Regions from separate parts of the Homo sapiens genome. Here region 1 is linked to region 2. Evidence: fine-mapped expression QTL. A gene starts in region 2. The other region holds a variant in brackets. All regions are shown on one strand. Distances are between the middles of the regions. Region 1 overlaps BAZ1B (bromodomain adjacent to zinc finger domain 1B). Region 2 holds the start of BAZ1B (bromodomain adjacent to zinc finger domain 1B).

Region 1 (8,329 bases), 79 kb after region 2:
TGAATCTCAATAAGGCCAAATACCGGGCCTTGTAAAGAGGAGACACCTTGTACTTGCCAAGATAATACTGTTGTTTTCCACACTGAAATTTGGGGTTGTAAAATGTGCAGCTTATAGGTACTCTGGCTTGGGCTTCTTTTTTGAGACGGAGTTTCGCTCTTGTTGCCCAGGCTGGAGTACGATGGCGCGATCTCGGCTCACTGTAACTTCCACCTCCCAGGTTCAAGCGATTCTGCTGCCTCAGCCTCCCGAGTAGCTAGGACTACAAGCATGCGCCACCACACCCAGCTCATTTTGTATTTTTAGTAGAGATGGGGTTTCTCCATGTTGGTCAGGCTAGTCTCGAACTCCCGACCTTAGGTGATCCGCCTGCCTCAGCCTCCCAAAGTGCTGGGATTACAGGCGTGAGCCACGGTGCCCGGCCTGGGCTTCCTTCTAAGGGGCAGAGCTGTTTGATCCTGACCCCACCTTAACAGTATTAGCAGGTTCTTTTGCACTCCATCCCAGCTGCACTTAGAGATGAGACATGTTGCTCTGAAATGGTGGGGCTTTGGACCAGCTGTTCCGAGCTGGGATTACCACTGCTTTGATATTATGGTCATCTGCAAGCTGTTTCAGCTCCTGGAAGGGGGCCATCAAGGTGAAGTCACACCTGTCTGGGCTCTGTTTATTCTTTTCAGTCTACCTCAGAGGTGGGGACAGCTTTTAGTAACTGATGTATTACATTATCTGGCTCTTTTTGTGAGACAAAAGAAACAGTGTTTTGTATTGCTTTGTGTGGGGAAGGGTAGGATTGCATTTTGGTCTTAATTTCTGTTGCCTTTGGTATCTTGTCCAAACTGTCTGTGGCCTGGCAGAAGGAGGCATGAGGCATGCTGTTGAAACTTGGTTTTTCATTTTTATGAAAAACTCTCCTGGCTTACATTCAGGTTCCCTCCCTGAATTATCATACGTTATACATATGTAGTCTGTGAAGAGAAGTTTCCTGATCCCTGTGGGATTTGAGCCCTTCTTAGGACCACTTTGGGCTAAAACTGTGTTCCCTACATTATTTTTTCTACCCACAGGAACTATACTGAAGAGTCTGCTTCTGAGGACAGTGAAGATGATGAGAGTGATGAAGAGGAGGAGGAGGAAGAAGAGGAGGAGGAGGAAGAAGATTATGAGGTGGCTGGTTTGCGATGTAAGTATTTTGTCTGCCTTTGTAGTTGATTTCACAGTCTTCTAAGCTTGGAACGCTTGGAAAGGCTGGCTTGGCAGTAGGTAGTGTGGCCGGCTTGCCCTATTCCTTTTCTCTTGTGTTGTGACTGTGGCGTAACTTAGCTGCCATGGGTTTAAATGGGTTTCCAAGATGGCGTTTAACTTCCTGCCTGGTGGGAGAGAAGGTGGCTTGATCTCAGTAACATCAACCCACTTGCTCTAAGATTTAGTAGAATTCATGGTCCCAAGTATATTTATGCCAAGGCTGCTGATTCTCAGCTCCTCGGCATATGGGGACAATGGGGAAGGAAGATCTTGGCCCATTGCCATCTCCTGACAGTTCTTTTGGCTGTTGTTTTATCGCTGCTTTCAGAGAGTGACTTTTTCTGTCTGGTTACAGTGATTTTCTCCTCCCTGCAGTGTGCAGGGTTATAGCTTTGCTGGTTTGAAAAGAGACGACTGATTATTTGAAGGCTTAGGTGGAAGGATGTTAGGAAGATTCAGATCTGTTCTCACTAGATGCCAGTAGGAAAAAAGGCATCATCTTTTGTGTTCACCGCATTGACTCTCATTCTCTCATGTTCATTTCTCATGAGTGTTGGAGAGTCTGGTGTTTGTGGCTAATGTCCTCCAGTCTAGCCTTTCTTTTAGCAGCCTCCCTCTTTCCAAAATACACTTTTTTTTTTTTTTTTTTTTTTTTGAGATGGTCTCACTGTCGCCTGGGCTGGAGTGCAGTGGTATGACCTCAGATTACCTCAGTCTCTGCCTCAGCCTCCCGAGTATACAGACACCCACCACCACACCTGGCTGATTTTTGTATTTTTAGTAGAGATGGAGTTTCACCATGTTGGCCAGGCTGGTCTCGAACTCCTGAGCTCAAGTGATCTGCCTGCCTTGGCCTCCCAAAGTGCTGGGATTACAGGCATAAGCCACTATGCCCGGCCAATACACTTTTCTTTACAGGTTCGTAGAAAACAGACCACAGATCAAAATTCTAATGAGCTTTTGAAGCAGTGGTACAGTTCCCAAGATCATAGCAGCTCTGAATGGTCATACTTGGTATAAGGAGTGAGAGAGAGGATGCCTGGCATGACTAGTCTCTTACTGTAGTGAGACTGCCAAAACCTAATGATTTGGGCTTGCCCGTCTTCTCCTGTCCTCCCACTTTCCCCCCCATACTTCAGAGGTGTGATGTGGGACACCTTAAGCTCTCACATACGTATGGGCTCTTTTTGTTTGTTCACTACGCCTGATTTTTCAGGTATCCTAGGGTAAGTGAACAAATGGCCCATCAGTCCTGCATTCAGGAATATCCTCTTCTGTTGGTCAGAGTCAGTGACTTGGGCACACCTTTGTTTGGGAACATATTTTTTTTGGCGGAGCGGGGGATGGGTATCTTTCTCTGTTGCCCAGGCTAGAGTGCACTGGTATGATCACTGCTCACTGTATCCTCGATCTCTCAGGCTTAAGCAATCCTCCTTACCTCAGCCTCCTGAGCAGCTGGGACTACAGGCACGTGCCACCATGCCCGGCTTTTTTGTAGAGATAGGGTCTTGCCATGTTTCCCAGGCTGGTCTTGAACTCTTGGGTTCAAGTGATCCTCCTGCCTTGGCCTCCCGAAGTGCTGGGATTACAAGTGTGAGCCACTGCGCCTGATCTCTCTGAGGGCAGATCCTGAATATGGTAGTATACTGATTCTGTTTATTTGTAAGCTAGTGATTGCTTTCCACTTCTACGTTGTAGCTCTCTTTCCAAGGAATTGCTTTTCTAAGTTTTTACGGCCTCGACTTGCCAAAAGGATCTGGGAAGTATTTGGTACTTCAGAGCTTTTTGTCAACTCTATCTTTCAGACCACCAAAGATGTGGTTCCCCAGTGCAGCTCAAGGTTCTAGCACCTAAGCATCAGATTCTTACCCTTTCTTACTAGCCTGGGCTTGAGCTAGAGACGCTAAAGTAGCCAAGAAAGGGTTATCGTGATCCAGAAATAGAATGGAAAGTAGTGTTTCTGGATTATTCGTGTCACTGCCTTCCTAGACCTCTGTGTCCAGTGTCATCTCCCCACTCCCCAAGGGAAGGTGGTGGAGAGCCTGGAGCTAAATCCTCATGGCATTGTTTCCCAGGGCTCACTGAGGAATGCCAGTTGGCTTGATGGTGAGCACCTGTTGTAAACCTGAGACACAAGTAGTCTCAGTGCCTTTGTGTGTGTGTGTGTGTGTGTTTTTTTTCTTTTGTGAGATGGAGTTACACCCTTGTTTCCCAGGCTGGAGTGCAGTGGCGTGATCTCGGCTCACTGCAACCTCCGCCTCCCAGGTTCAAGCGATTTTCCTGCCTCAGCCTCCTGAGTAGCTGGGATTACCAGCATGTGCCACCACGCCCTGCTAATTTTGTATTTTTAGTAGAGACGGGGTTTCACCATGTTGGTCAGGCTGGTCTTGAACTCCCGACCTCAGGTGATCCACCTGCCTCAGCCTCCTAAAGTGGTGGGATTACATGTGTGAGCCACAACGCCCGGCCTATATTCTTTATTCTCTCATTGGGGATCCTGGGCAGGGCTCTTATGGAGGGGACTAGCCCTAAATTGTATTTAATGAGGAGCCTTGTGGCCCTTCATGGAAGTACCAGCTTTTCTCTGGAAAGATTCTGATGGTAAGTGTAGAATAACTCTGGGAATTACAACATAGGGTTTGTTTTACAATCCAGTTCCATCTTACATGTAAATACATCCACTCGCTCAGGCTGAGCTTGGGCTGTGGGAAATCCAGGCTGACCTATTAGCAAATGGCTTCTCATGAGTGAGAGTTTACAGTTGATTCCTGCAGGGGCCTTATGGCTGGGAGTAACTGCAGGACGGGGCAGGACAGAAGTACTGAAGGACCTAGCCCTCTGAAGGGCTTTGGCAGTGGATGAAAGGCACCCATTCTTCATCGGCTGCCACTGCCTTTTAGTGTCCTGTTAGGTAAGGCAAGATAAAATAGCAAGAGCACCTTAAAACCAAAGGAGGCCACTGCTTTCCTTGTCCAGGAAAAGGATTCTCCCTGCATCCCTTTCCCCCATTTCGAAGATGCTCCTCCCTTCACCTTCCGTTGTTCTCTG[C/A]TGAATCCATAGTTTTTCTTTCAGTGAGACCTCGAAAGACCATCCGGGGCAAGCACAGCGTCATCCCCCCTGCAGCAAGGTCAGGCCGGCGCCCGGGTAAGAAGCCACACTCTACCAGGAGGTCTCAGCCCAAGGCACCACCTGTGGATGATGCTGAGGTGGATGAGCTGGTGAGAATTATTTATCATCCCTTCTCTAACCTTTCTGTTTCTTATTCCCTACCCCAGCAATTAGGAATTCATCAGGCAACAGGTGGGAGGGGAGCCTCCCCCCTCCTCCTTCTTACCAAACTTGGGAGGCTGGGGAGGCAGATGGGTGAGCCTGTACGCAGACAGAAGCAGCAAGGCCTCCAGGAACAGCTATGTCCGGCATTCCCCTGCTGTAGCCTGCAAACTAGTTAGCGGGCAGCCTGCAACTTATTAAGGATTTAAAAATAGTATCCATGTGTCTCCAGTGGGCTCAGAGGGGCTGGGTCTTCATTGTGGGAATGTCAGCAATGCTGGAGCCTCACTTACTGTTGAGTCGACAGTTGTTATGGGAGGGACATTACCCTCCCCTCTGCTCCTTAACCAATGTAATTTTAGTAGTTTTTAGATCTCACTTGAGCTTTAAAGAACAAAAAAGAAACTCTTGAAAAGGTGCTTGTTTTGACAGATCAAATTGGAGTTAGGGGCTTAAGGCAGGCCATTTGGGAGATCATAAGGCATTAGAAGATGCTCGGTTTGCCACAGCCTTGGGCTCTGTGGCCTCTGCTGTGAATCACAGCTTTTGTTATGGCTACCTGGAATGGAGGCCCCGCCCCTTTTCTCTTTAGCCACTTAACCCTCACATGTCTACGGTGGAAGAGCCCAGGAAGGGAATTGGACCTCTTGCTTTTCTTACCAGAGGCACCCCACCCCCACAGAATTGGCTGCTGTTGGCCCAGATAGCATGTTTTGCTTTCTGCAGTGGCTTGTTGATGCCCTTCCATGGTGTCACTGTAACCCCAGGTCCACCTGTTCTCTGAGAGCTAGTGTCCTGTTGACAGTAGCCCCCTTCAGCCGACCTCCAGCAGGACTGCTGGTAAAGGCGGCCCCCGCTGCCTGCTCTTTGCTGCTTTGATTGCCGTGGCCCCGGGGGAGGCGAGTGAGTGGACTACTGGGAAGATGCCTGCCACCTGGGCCGAGGGTGCTCCCTGACTTGAATATCAGAAGGTTTCAGCACCTCTGCGCCAAGGAAATAGTTGAACTCTCTTCCTTTTTTGAGCAGATACACTTATTTTCTGCCCTGTCCATTCTTCCTCCTGTCTTGAATCTGTAATAACATTGTTCTTTCTTTCCTGCCAGGTGCTTCAGACCAAGCGGAGCTCCCGGAGGCAAAGCCTGGAGCTGCAGAAGTGTGAAGAGATCCTCCACAAGATCGTGAAGTACCGCTTCAGCTGGCCCTTCAGGTGAGTGCTGTGTTCTCAGGTGCAGGGGAGAGGAGTGGCCTGGCTGGTTCTAAAAGCTTCCAGAGCCCCTGAGGGGCTCTCAGCCAAGCCCTTGCTTTTCAGGACGTGTCTCAGTGGCAGGGGCACTGCCGTCAAGGCTGTGCAGATTCTCCATTTGGTTCTTCTCCACAGGGAGCCTGTGACCAGAGATGAGGCCGAGGACTACTATGATGTGATCACGCACCCCATGGACTTTCAGACAGTGCAGAACAAATGTTCCTGTGGGAGCTACCGCTCTGTGCAGGAGTTTCTTACTGACATGAAGCAAGTGTTTACCAATGCTGAGGTTTACAACTGCCGTGGCAGCCATGTGCTAAGCTGCATGGTGAAGACAGAACAGTGTCTAGTGGCTCTGTTGCATAAACACCTTCCTGGCCACCCATATGTCCGCAGGAAGCGCAAGAAGTTTCCTGATAGGCTTGCTGAAGATGAAGGGGACAGTGAGCCAGAGGCCGTTGGACAGTCCAGGGGACGAAGACAGAAGAAGTAGAGAGGCAGGGCCGTGGTAAGGGAGCTGAGGTGGGGGGACAGCTAGGGAGGGTGGGAGGGAGGCGAGCGAGGAAGACCAAGAACCTGGAAGAGATCACAGGGAGTCCAGAAACGCCTGTCATCCCAAGCTTATGCTGTTTTTCTAAAAGCTCTTTATGGGGCTTGATATTGGGTTGGTGGTCTTTGTCCAGAAATATGAAGGGACAAAGAGGGCCATAACCCTCCCTTCTGAGAGTTTCCAGGAGGAGTCCGAGGGTCTAGCTTTTCTGGTGAAGCCAGTTCCTGTTCCTGCCTTCTTTCCTAAGGGCCTGCTCGCTCTGGCTTCCACCACAGTGCCAAGCCCCTCTGGTCTCCAGGGGAGGGATTGCTGTGTTACATAGCAGGATCGGGGTAATCAGGCCAACAGGGGAGATGGTGGCGATTTTTCTTTTTTAATCTGTATTTATTATACAGTCTTGTTTCTTTAAGCCCATACTCTGTCTCTTCCCCCGTCTTCCTCTCAGGTGACAGTATCAGTGAGTGCCATACAGAATTGTGTATTCACCAGCATCATGAAACAGTTGTGGTCTTTTGAGTTGATCTTGGCAGAGTAAAGGGACGTGTCCTGGAGCCATTCCTGAATCTCCCCTTCTTTGTGACAGCTCCTCCCACCCCCCCAAAAAATAAAAAAACCACAAAAAACAAAAAAACAAAACTAAGGCACTTCACTTAGAGACTGGAGTCCTGCTTATAATCATGCATATAACCTTTACTTTGATGGATCTGGCCAGAGGGGTGTTGGAGCCCAGCCCACCCACATACCAGTCAAGCTCTTAGGGGAGCAGAAGAAAAGCAGGAAGAATTTAAATGTTTAATTTTTTTTTTAAATTGACTTTTCTAGTTATTAAAAGTTGCTTGTTTCAGCAGTGATATTGTATAAAGAACATCTTGTAAGATACTCCTGACATCTTGCTTTAGCACATGTACAGTACAGTTTCTATGATAATGTGTTTGCTCTAACTTCCCTGGCTTCTCCTTCAGCCCATCCACTCTCCTCTAGAGCAGTTGGGTTGGAGGCTCATTGAGGCAAGCAGCAACATTGGAGGGGGAGCAGGGCAGTGCTGTGTCTGCTGCCTCCCATGCCCGTTCTGACCTCAGCCTTGGAACTCCTCAAGAACCTGAAGATTCCAGTGGTCAGTGTCGGTGGGGGGTGGGAGGAGAGAGCGGCAGAGAAGCTCTGAGAGCCCCTTCCCCCACAACAAATCTAGCTCTAGTTGTTATATTTAGGCAAAACTTTGTAGTCTTCTTTCCCTTTTATGATGGATTTTGATAAAAGTACAAAACAGGGTTTTTCTTTTTTATCACCTTTGAATTTGGAAATTTTGAGCACCCAAGCTCTTCTGTACCTATTTAAAGTCCACCAAGGGGACTGCAGCTCCTAGAACATGAGAATCAAGCCTCTTAATTTTAAACTGCGGAATGTGGCCTCTGCTTCCTCCGTCCTCCTGCCCAAGGACGACGAGGATTGCTCCAGGGCTGCTGGGTAGTTTACCGTCCCTTCTATAGGCATGGAGTTGGCACTGACATCACAGCTTCATAACCCCACCACCGCCAGCTTCCCCTGCCTCCTACATCCAGTCTGTTCTTGTTCATAGTGAGAATCCTGTGTTCCCACTTCAGTGACACCTGAATTGTTTGTTGTTGTTTTTTTTTTTTATTGTCTTCAAAGAGGAAGGGCCCCATTAAAGGGTGAACTTGTAATAAATTGGAATTTCAAATAAACCTCATGTACTTGTGTTTATAAAGAAGAAACCACTCTGGTGGCTGTTTGTGCTCTTTCTTGGTGGGTGGGGGTGGGTAGTGCTGTCCCGAGTGCTGCTTTCCCACTGACCCTTGGAGCCGGGTCCTCTGAAGGCTTGGCCTCCAGAGTCAGGGCCTCTCAGTGTTCTTAACCACAGAAAGAAGTACTCCCTCCAAGCCTCTCCTGGCCCTGTCTCCGTCTAAAACCCTGAAAAACTTCATTTGAAACTAGGAATTACGGTGAAAATAGGTTTTTAAGCCTTCACTATGGGGAAATTCTGCCATTTTAAAACCTTTCTC
Region 2 (8,329 bases):
CTGCTAGAATGGATGTTATCTAGTTGCCCCTGAGGCTGTGGAGCTCAAGAGAGAGGTCAGAGGCTGAGCCTGTGGGCTAAACAGGAAGGCGAAGCCATTAAGAGAAATAAAACCAGGGCCAGGTGCGGTGGCTCATGACTGTAATTACAGCACTTTGGGAGGCCAGAGTGAGAGGATCATTTGAGCCCAGGAGGCAGGAGTTTGAGAATAGCCCAGGCAATATATAGTGAGACGTGTCTTTATTAAAATATATATATATATATATATATATATTTTTTTTTTTTTAGATGGAGTCTCATTCTGTCACCCAGGCAGGAGTGCAGTGGCGCGATCTCGGCTCATTGCAACCTCCGCCTTCTGGGTTCAAGCGATTCTCCTGCCTCAGTCTCCCGAGTAGCTGGGACTACAGGCACACACCACCACACCCAGCTAAATTTTTATATTTTTAGTAGAGCCAGACAGGGTTTCACCATATTGGCCGGGCTGGTCTCCAACTCCTGACCTCGTGATTTGCCCGCCTCGGCCTCCCAAAGTGCTGGGATTACAGGCATGATCCACCCCTGCCCGGCCTAAAATAGTTTTTAAAATGTATTTTAAAAAAGAAAGAAAGAAAAAGAGCCAGGAGTGGTGGCTCACGCTTGTAATCCTGGCAGTTTGGGAGGCTTAGGTGGGTGGATCATTTGAGCTCAGGAATTTGAGACCATCCTGGGCAACATGGTGAGACCCTGTCTCTGCCAAAAACACAAAAAAAGAGCTGGGCATGGTGTTGTGTGCCTGTGGTCCCAGCTATTTGGGAGGCTGAGGTGGGAGGATCACTTGAGCCTGGGAGGTGGACGTTGCAGTGAGTTGAGATTGTGCAACTGCACTCCAGCCTGGGCAACAGAGTGAGACCCTATCTCAAAAACAAACTAATAATGTAGTCATTATAAAAACATAATCATAAAATATAGAAAAATATAAAGAAGAAAATCACATCAATTGTAATTCCAGTGAAAAAGGAGGGGTGAAAAAAAAGAAAAGAAAAAAAATTGTAATTCCAGGCCTGGTGCGGTGGCTTATGCCTGTAATCCCAGCACTTTGACAGGCTGAGGAGGGAGGAAACCTTGAGGCCAGGGGCTTGAGGCCAGCCTGGGCAACACAGTGAGACCCCATCCCCGTCACCGTCTCTACAAAAAAGAAAATACTTAGCAGGACATGGTGGTGTGTGCCTGTAGTCCCAGCTACTCTGGAGGCTGAGGATCTTGAGTCCAGGAGGTCGAGGTTGCAGTGAGCTGTGATCCCCCACTGCACTCACTCCAGCCTGGGCGACAGTGCAAGATCTTGTCTCAAAATGAGACAAAACGCAAAAACCATAAATCCATTTCCCCGAGATGAGCACTGTTCTTTATTTGGGGTCTCTTCATAAGCTCTATATGGTTCCTGAAGCTCAAGTTTCTGTACTGTGACCACCAAGCCCCACCTCCAGCTCCCACTTCCTCCCTCAGAATTTCCGGCTGTGTTCTGGATGGCTCTTCAGGGTACCTGGAGTTCACATGGCTGAAACCAAGCCCATTACCGATTTTCCCATCTCAGATCCCATCTTCACCAATCCCAGCAATGGATTCTAGCCCACAGCGGACCCAAGCGCTGAAATGATTATGGTGCCCAGTTCACATGTGCAAAGTGAGATGCTGTTCTGAAATATCAAATTGTTTTCTTTTGCTTTTTTTTTTTTTTTTTTGAGATGGAATTTCGCTTTATCGCCCAGACTGGGCACCATCTCAGCTCACTGCAACCTCTGCCTCCCGGGTTCAAGCAATTCTCCTGCCTCAGCCTCCCAAGTAGCTGGGATTACAGGTATGCGCCACCACGCCCGGCTGATTTTTGTATTTTTAGCAGAGACGGGGTTTTGCCATGTTGCCTAGACTTGTCTCAAACTCTTGGCCGCAAAGTATCCTCTCTCCTCAGCCTCCCAAAGTGCTGAGATTACAGGTGTGAGCCACCATGCCTAGCCCTGTAATTCCCTTCTAAGTAGTCACTCCGATTCAGCCATTACAGAATATATCAGGATGGTCACTTCCTTTACCATTCTCATCTGATATATTCTGCCTCAAATCCTCACATTTTGGGCACACGATCTTGAACTTCCAGGCTTCACTCTGCTGTTCTGTCTATAATGTTCGTCCCTCCTTCTCTGTCTAGAGAACTCTTTTCTTTTCTCAATTAACTCAAACGCTATGTGCTCTGGCAAGGCTTCTCCTGCTGTTCTTGGGAGAAAAGTCTACTGCCTCAAGGAAAAGGAACCGAGATCTTTTCTGCTAGGTGATCAGAGGAAACTTCACAGAGGTAGCTTTTGACCTAGACCTCCTAGTGGGGATAGGAGATCCTTGAGGTGAGAAGAAAAGGAGATAGAGGTCTGACATTAGGAGACTGCATTTAGAGACACCTCGCAGTCTAGCCCCGTTGAAGGACAGGCTGGGAAGGTACAGCTGGGAAGGTACAGGCTGGGAAACTTTAAAGTGAAGTTCTTTAAACTAAGGGAGACAGTTTAATAGGGAGATAACTTAATGAGTGTGTTTTTGATTGTACTGGAAAGCCAAACAAATTCTGGATGTGGGTGTTGTCTGCTTGGAGAAGCAACTGAAATGCTCCCCATTTAATAGCATTAAAATAGTTGATGCTATTTTCTTATTCTGCACTTTGTATAGAACTGTGATTATTATTATAATTTTTGAGACGGAGTTTTGCTCTTGTTGCCCAGGCTGGAGCGCAATAGCACAAACTCGGCTCACCGCAACCACCCCCTCTCGGATTCAAGCGATTCTCCTGCCTCAGCCTCTCGAATAGCTGGGATTACAGGCATGCGCCACCACGCCCGGCTAATTTTGTATTTTTAGTAGAGACAGGGTTTCTCCATGGTGCTCAGGCTGGTTTCGAACTCCCGAGCTCAGGTGAGGCGCCCGCCTCAGCCTCCCAAAATGCTGGGATTACAGGCGTGAGCCATCGTGCCCGACCAAACGTACCTATTTCCCCCCCCCCCCCGCCTCCCTGAGACGGAGTCTCGCTCTGTCGCCCAGGCTGGAGTGCAGTGGCACGATCTCCGCTCACTCCAAGCTCCACCTCCCGGGTTCACGCCATTCTGCCTCAGCTTCCCAGTAGCTGGGACTACAGGCACCCGCCACCACGCCTGGCTAATTTTTTGTATTTTTAGTAGAGACGGGGTTTCACCGTGTTAGCCAGGATGGTCTCCATCTCCTGACCCCGTGATCCGCCCGCCTCGGCCTCCCAAAGTGCTGGGATTACAGGGGTGAGCCACTGCGCCCGGCCCAGACGTACCTATTAAAGAGACATCCTGGCTGGGCACAGTGGGTCACGCCTAATCTCAGCACTTTGGGAGGCAGAGGCGGGACAATTGCTTGAGGCCAAGAGTTCGAGACCAGTCTGGGCAACAAAGTAAGACCCTGTCTCTACAAAAAAAATAAAAAATAAAAGGTAGATCCAATTCATTCAAATAGTATTCACTAGCACCTACAATGTTCCGAGCCAGGTGCTGAGTATCATGGGAGAAAAAAAAAAAAAGCCAGAGTCACAGCTCTGGCAGGGCGTGGTGGCTCACGCCTGTAATCCCAACACTTTGGGAGGCCGAGGCGGGTGGATCACCTGAGATCAGGAGTCCGAGACCAGCCTGACCAACATGGTGAAACCCCGTCTCTACAAAATACAAAAAATAGCCGGGTGTGGTGGCGCGCACCTGTAGTCCCAGCTACTCGGGAGGCCGAGGCAAGAGAATAGCTTGAACCCGGGAGGGAGAGGTTGCAGTGAGCCGAGACTGCACCACTGCACTCCAGCCTGGGCAACAAGAGTGAAACTCCGTCTCAAAAAAAAAAATAATGATAATTTTGGGAGGCCTAGGCGGTCGGATCACCTGAAGTCGGGAGTTTGAGACCAGCCTGACCAACATGGAGAAGCCCCGTCTCTACTAATAATACAAAATTGGCCGGGCGTGGTGGTGCACGCCAGTAATTCCAGCTACTTGGGAGGCTGAGGCAGGAGAATCTCTTGAACCCGGGAGGCGGAGGTTGCGGTGAGCCGATATCGCGCCATTGCCCTCCAGCCTGGGCGACAGAGCGAGACTCCGTCTCAAAAAAAACAAAAACCAAAAACCAAAAAACTAAGTACGTCTTTTAATCTATTTCTCCAAAGAAGCTTCTATATTCTACTTTCCAGCCAGCCCCTAGAAACAAGCAGTATACTTCTACCCAGATCTCAACCACACTCCCGCCCAGAAGTTAACTCTGGGGTGAGCAAAGCTGGCCCCCACGTTGTCCTTCCGCAGAACCTTTGGTAGGGTAAGCTCCCGGGGCCACTTCCCGCCAACCCCTCCCTGCAGCCCAGCCCCACCCGCGCATCCCCGGGCGTGGCCGAGCACGGCGCCTTTAAGAAGGGGGAGGCGCCCAAGAGGAAAGACAAAGCCCCTGGCCGCGCGCTCACCCTCCCCCTCCGGCGCACCACACGGACAGTGGTGCCCGGATGTCGGTGTCGCCGTCGGTGACAGATGGCGCAGTATCTGTATATGCGAGGGGCTTCTCCGGCTTGACCTCTTTGAGTTCTCGTCCTCTCCATCCCCCGCTGTCCCCCACTTTTAACTCTGCCGTCGGAGGCCCGCACGCCTATCACGGGCGCTTACATAACGTGACCTTTCACCTCTTCAGACTGCCCTCTAGTGCGCTGCAACCCAACTACGCGACAGGGGCAGGGGGGCGGGACCCAGGCGCGGAGCGGCAGCTCCTCCGAGCCAATAGGCTGTGAGCGCTGACCAGCTCTCCGCCTATTGGAGCATTCGCCACCGGCGCCACGGGGGAGCAAGTTAGTGTGTGCGTTGGCCGGGCCCGGGGGAGGAGGGGAATCTCCCGCCATTTTTCAATAATTTCCTCCGGTGCTGCTGAGGAGGAGTCGTGACTGCCGGCCGCCGGGACCCGAAGCGGAGGTCGGCGGGGGGCTGCTGGGAGGCGCGGCGGTGTGCGCGGGAGCTCTGCGCCGTGGCGTTCCGCTCCATGACTGTCGCGCGGCCGCGCCGGCGGTGAGGGAGCCGGAGTTCGCGCCGCCCTCTCACCCCTCCCTTCCCCCACCCCACCCCCGGGCGCCTGGCGCTCGCTCCGGGCCGCGGGGCCTAGTGCTGCGCCGCGGGGCCGGCCCCAGCAGCCGCCAGTCCCCACCGCCGCCGCCGCGATGGCGCCGCTCCTGGGCCGCAAGCCCTTCCCGCTGGTGAAGCCGTTGCCCGGAGAGGAGCCGCTCTTCACCATCCCGCACACTCAGGAGGCCTTCCGCACCCGGGAGTATCCTTTTCCAGCCGCGCGGGCCGGGCTGGGCCGGGCTGGGCCGGGGTAGGGCCTGGGGCTCGCGAGACCAGGTCAGCCGCGCATCCCCGGCCCGGGGCAGCTGTCAGCGCGCCCCGGCCGCTCGCGGGCCTGGAGGCTGAGTCTCAGCCTGCGCCCGCCGATCCTTCCAGGGGATCCGGCGGGGGGCGCGCACCGGCCCTGGAAGGAGAAGGGCCCGCTTCGGCCGCCCCCGGGGCCCCGCACTTTGTCCCGGGGCCTCGCCGGCGAGGAGCGCATCCCCCATCCCCATTACCTTCCCCGGGTTGGCTTTAGGCCTTGAGGACCCGAGAGGGAGGAGGAGGCGTGGGGAGGGGGAGCTAGGTTTTCTCCTTTAATTTTTACAAAAATTTTTTAAAAATTTAAATGAAACCTGCAGCTTAAGTTTTGAAATTGTACTCGCGCGGCCTCGTGATGCGGCGTGTGCAAGACTCAACTGCGTCTTACCCCGATCTCTGCGGGGATACTTGGCGTTTTTTTCGTCTCCCGAGGGGACTTTAGGCCGGGGATGAACTGACAGGACCCTGGGGCAGAAAACTAGGAATGAGATTCCCCGCTTAGAGGAAAGGGAGGGAAGGAAACTGCCTGTGGAGGAGCTGATGCCTGCCTTCCCTGGGCAGACACAGGTTTGAAATTTTGAAGGTTTAGAAGGAGATTGGTATTTGTTAAAATTAAACAAACAAAAAAACCAAGACGTGAAGTTTTTATGTTGTATTTTAGGAACATGAAATTGGATGTTTTACAAAGGAAGCATCCTCTCGTCATGACTAAGATTTCTTGCATAAGCATTATCTTTTAGTGAAAAGTTGTGCAGCTTTTATTTGCTTTTTTTTAATGGGTGCCAGAAGAATCGTTTTTGAGGCTTATCTGTAAAAAAAACAAAAACGATTTCGGAATCAAGCATTTCTTTGGTGACTGAAAGCTTTAAGAGTGAAGGCTAATGTGTTATGAGTTTTCTCAGCCCCTTCTGTTCGGAAGGACTTCATTTCTCAGTTTCTTGCTTGCTTCTGTATAGGAGGAAGTGTCTCTCAGAGTTATTTCATTTCTCCCTGATCCTCACTTTAACGCAGTACTTTAGAGGATAATCTCATTCTTGTTGGAGTGCAATTTGTGAGTGTCCCTTTGTGGGGAGTATACACACAAAGGGGCCTGGAAAATCAGTCCATGCTGGAGGAAGGCTCTTGGAGAAATAGAGCTGTAGCATCTTGGAGCTGAAGTGGATCTTGGAGGTGGTCGGGTCCTCGGGCTTGGTTTGCTGAGTTGGCCCAGAGAGTGGAGGTTGACTTGTTGAAGGTCAAATGATGAAAGAGGAGTAGAATCCACCGCTCTTCCTACCTCATCCCTGTAAGTCAATCAACAGAAGAAGGTGGAATGTTACTCCTTCACTTTCAATTAATTTAAATATTACCTCACTTTTTTGTCATTATGGTATAAGGTAAGGCACTTTAAAGTGGAGGGGTGGTGATCTGGTTTTTTTCTTGTCCTGTGAAGACTTGGAATGTTCTGGAGAAGTTCCACTAGCTCTACCAAATACTGCATTATACCGAAGTACCCCACTTTTTTTTTTTTTTTTTTTTGAGACGGAGTTTCCCTCTTGTTAACCCAGGTGGCAGTGCAGTGGCACGATCTGGGCTCACTGCCATCTCCGCCTCCAGGGTTCAAGTGATTCTCCTGCCTCAGCCTCCTGAGTAGCTAGGATTACAGGCGCGTGCCACCACGCCCGGCTAACTTTTTGTGTTTTTAGTAGAGATGGGGTTTTACCATGTTGGCCAGGCTGGTCTCAAACTCCTGACCTCAGGTGATCCGCCCATCTCGGCCTCCCAAAGTACTGGGATTAACAGGCGTGAGCCACCGCGCCTGGCCAGTACCCTACTTTTTAATACATTCGAATCGGCAGTGGAGTAGCAACTTGTGAGAATCCGACATATACTTTTCCAATGTCATTAATGTTTTGAGCCGTTGATGGATGCTCACACACTTTCAGATGATACTTTCTCAGGTCTGGTTCTAGCAGAGTATAAGAAACATGCCATAGAGAAGAGACAATTTCTAAGTATATTTCAGGTACTGAGCTATGTAAAAAATGGCTGTAGGAAGTTAATTTAGGACTGGCAACGCAGGCTTTTTCATATTATTGAATGAATGAAATTGAAATATATATATGAAGAGTTTTGATGGTAACAATTTAAAACTGAAACCGGAAACATTTTAAGTGGTATGTATTTAATAAACATTCTTCATTTTTTAATTTCCCATAACAGCATTTAAAACTGTTTTAACAAAAGAAGTCTTAAAACATATTATATATTGGGGGGAAATTGCTCTTTCGGGAATTTCTGCAAGTGGAAGCACTTTGAGGATGGTTTTTAAACAATTGTACTGTATGGTTGGCAGATTGGCATATTTCTTTATTAGGCTATTAGTGGTTTCATAGAGGAGAACAAATATGTGGTTAGGTAACAGCTGCCTTTGAAGTAGTATTCCCAGTTCTCAACTTATATTTACAATTATGTTTTTAATGGGACTTGATATTTTAATTTTCTTTTAATACCTACCTTTTGATTGCATGTATCACAGAACTTTGTGTGATATTTTACTGACTTAAAGCTGTATGTTGGTATGTTCTTGGAGTATATTGTGAATCTTCATTAAACTTAGTGGAAGTTGTGAGTAATGCACACATTTAATGACTAGGTGTTAAATATTGGTGATTATGTTGATTGTACTGTAGCTTTGTATGGTACATTACTTCCTAAGGTATTCCCACAGGCAGGACACTAGATCTTGGAAAACACTAACTTTATCAGAATCAGTTCTTGATGTGACACTGACTGTATTTAAGTCAAGATAGGTTTTAGGCAGGAATTGGAGCTACAAGCAGCGTGTTGTAGATGAGTATTTTTGTTGTGTTACTTCAACTGTCATAGTTTCTAAAGCTTAGAAATAACTAGTTCACGACCTTTGTAGCATCATTA

The links. PIP is the estimated chance that this variant, and not a neighbour inherited with it, causes the effect.
Region 1: its variant is fine-mapped to the expression of BAZ1B in whole blood (TOPMed, PIP above 0.99).

What each region holds. Positions count from the first base shown.
Region 1 is chr7:73,440,118-73,448,446 of GRCh38, reverse strand. It overlaps BAZ1B (bromodomain adjacent to zinc finger domain 1B), which reads left to right. Exons shown (of 20, transcript NM_032408.4): 16 at 1,068-1,183; 17 at 4,318-4,463; 18 at 5,619-5,722; 19 at 5,894-6,266; 20 at 6,754-8,041. The coding sequence ends at 6,251. Among named protein-coding and RNA genes, the nearest start is that of FZD9, 11 kb to the right of the region's middle. RefSeq lists an enhancer at 4,857-5,827. The variant C/A (reference allele first, on the strand shown) is at 4,294.
Region 2 is chr7:73,518,813-73,527,141 of GRCh38, reverse strand. It overlaps BAZ1B (bromodomain adjacent to zinc finger domain 1B), which reads left to right and starts at 4,849. Exons shown (of 20, transcript NM_032408.4): 1 at 4,849-5,315. The coding sequence starts at 5,209. RefSeq lists enhancers at 1,353-1,422, 4,506-4,665 and silencers at 4,236-4,375, 4,726-5,605.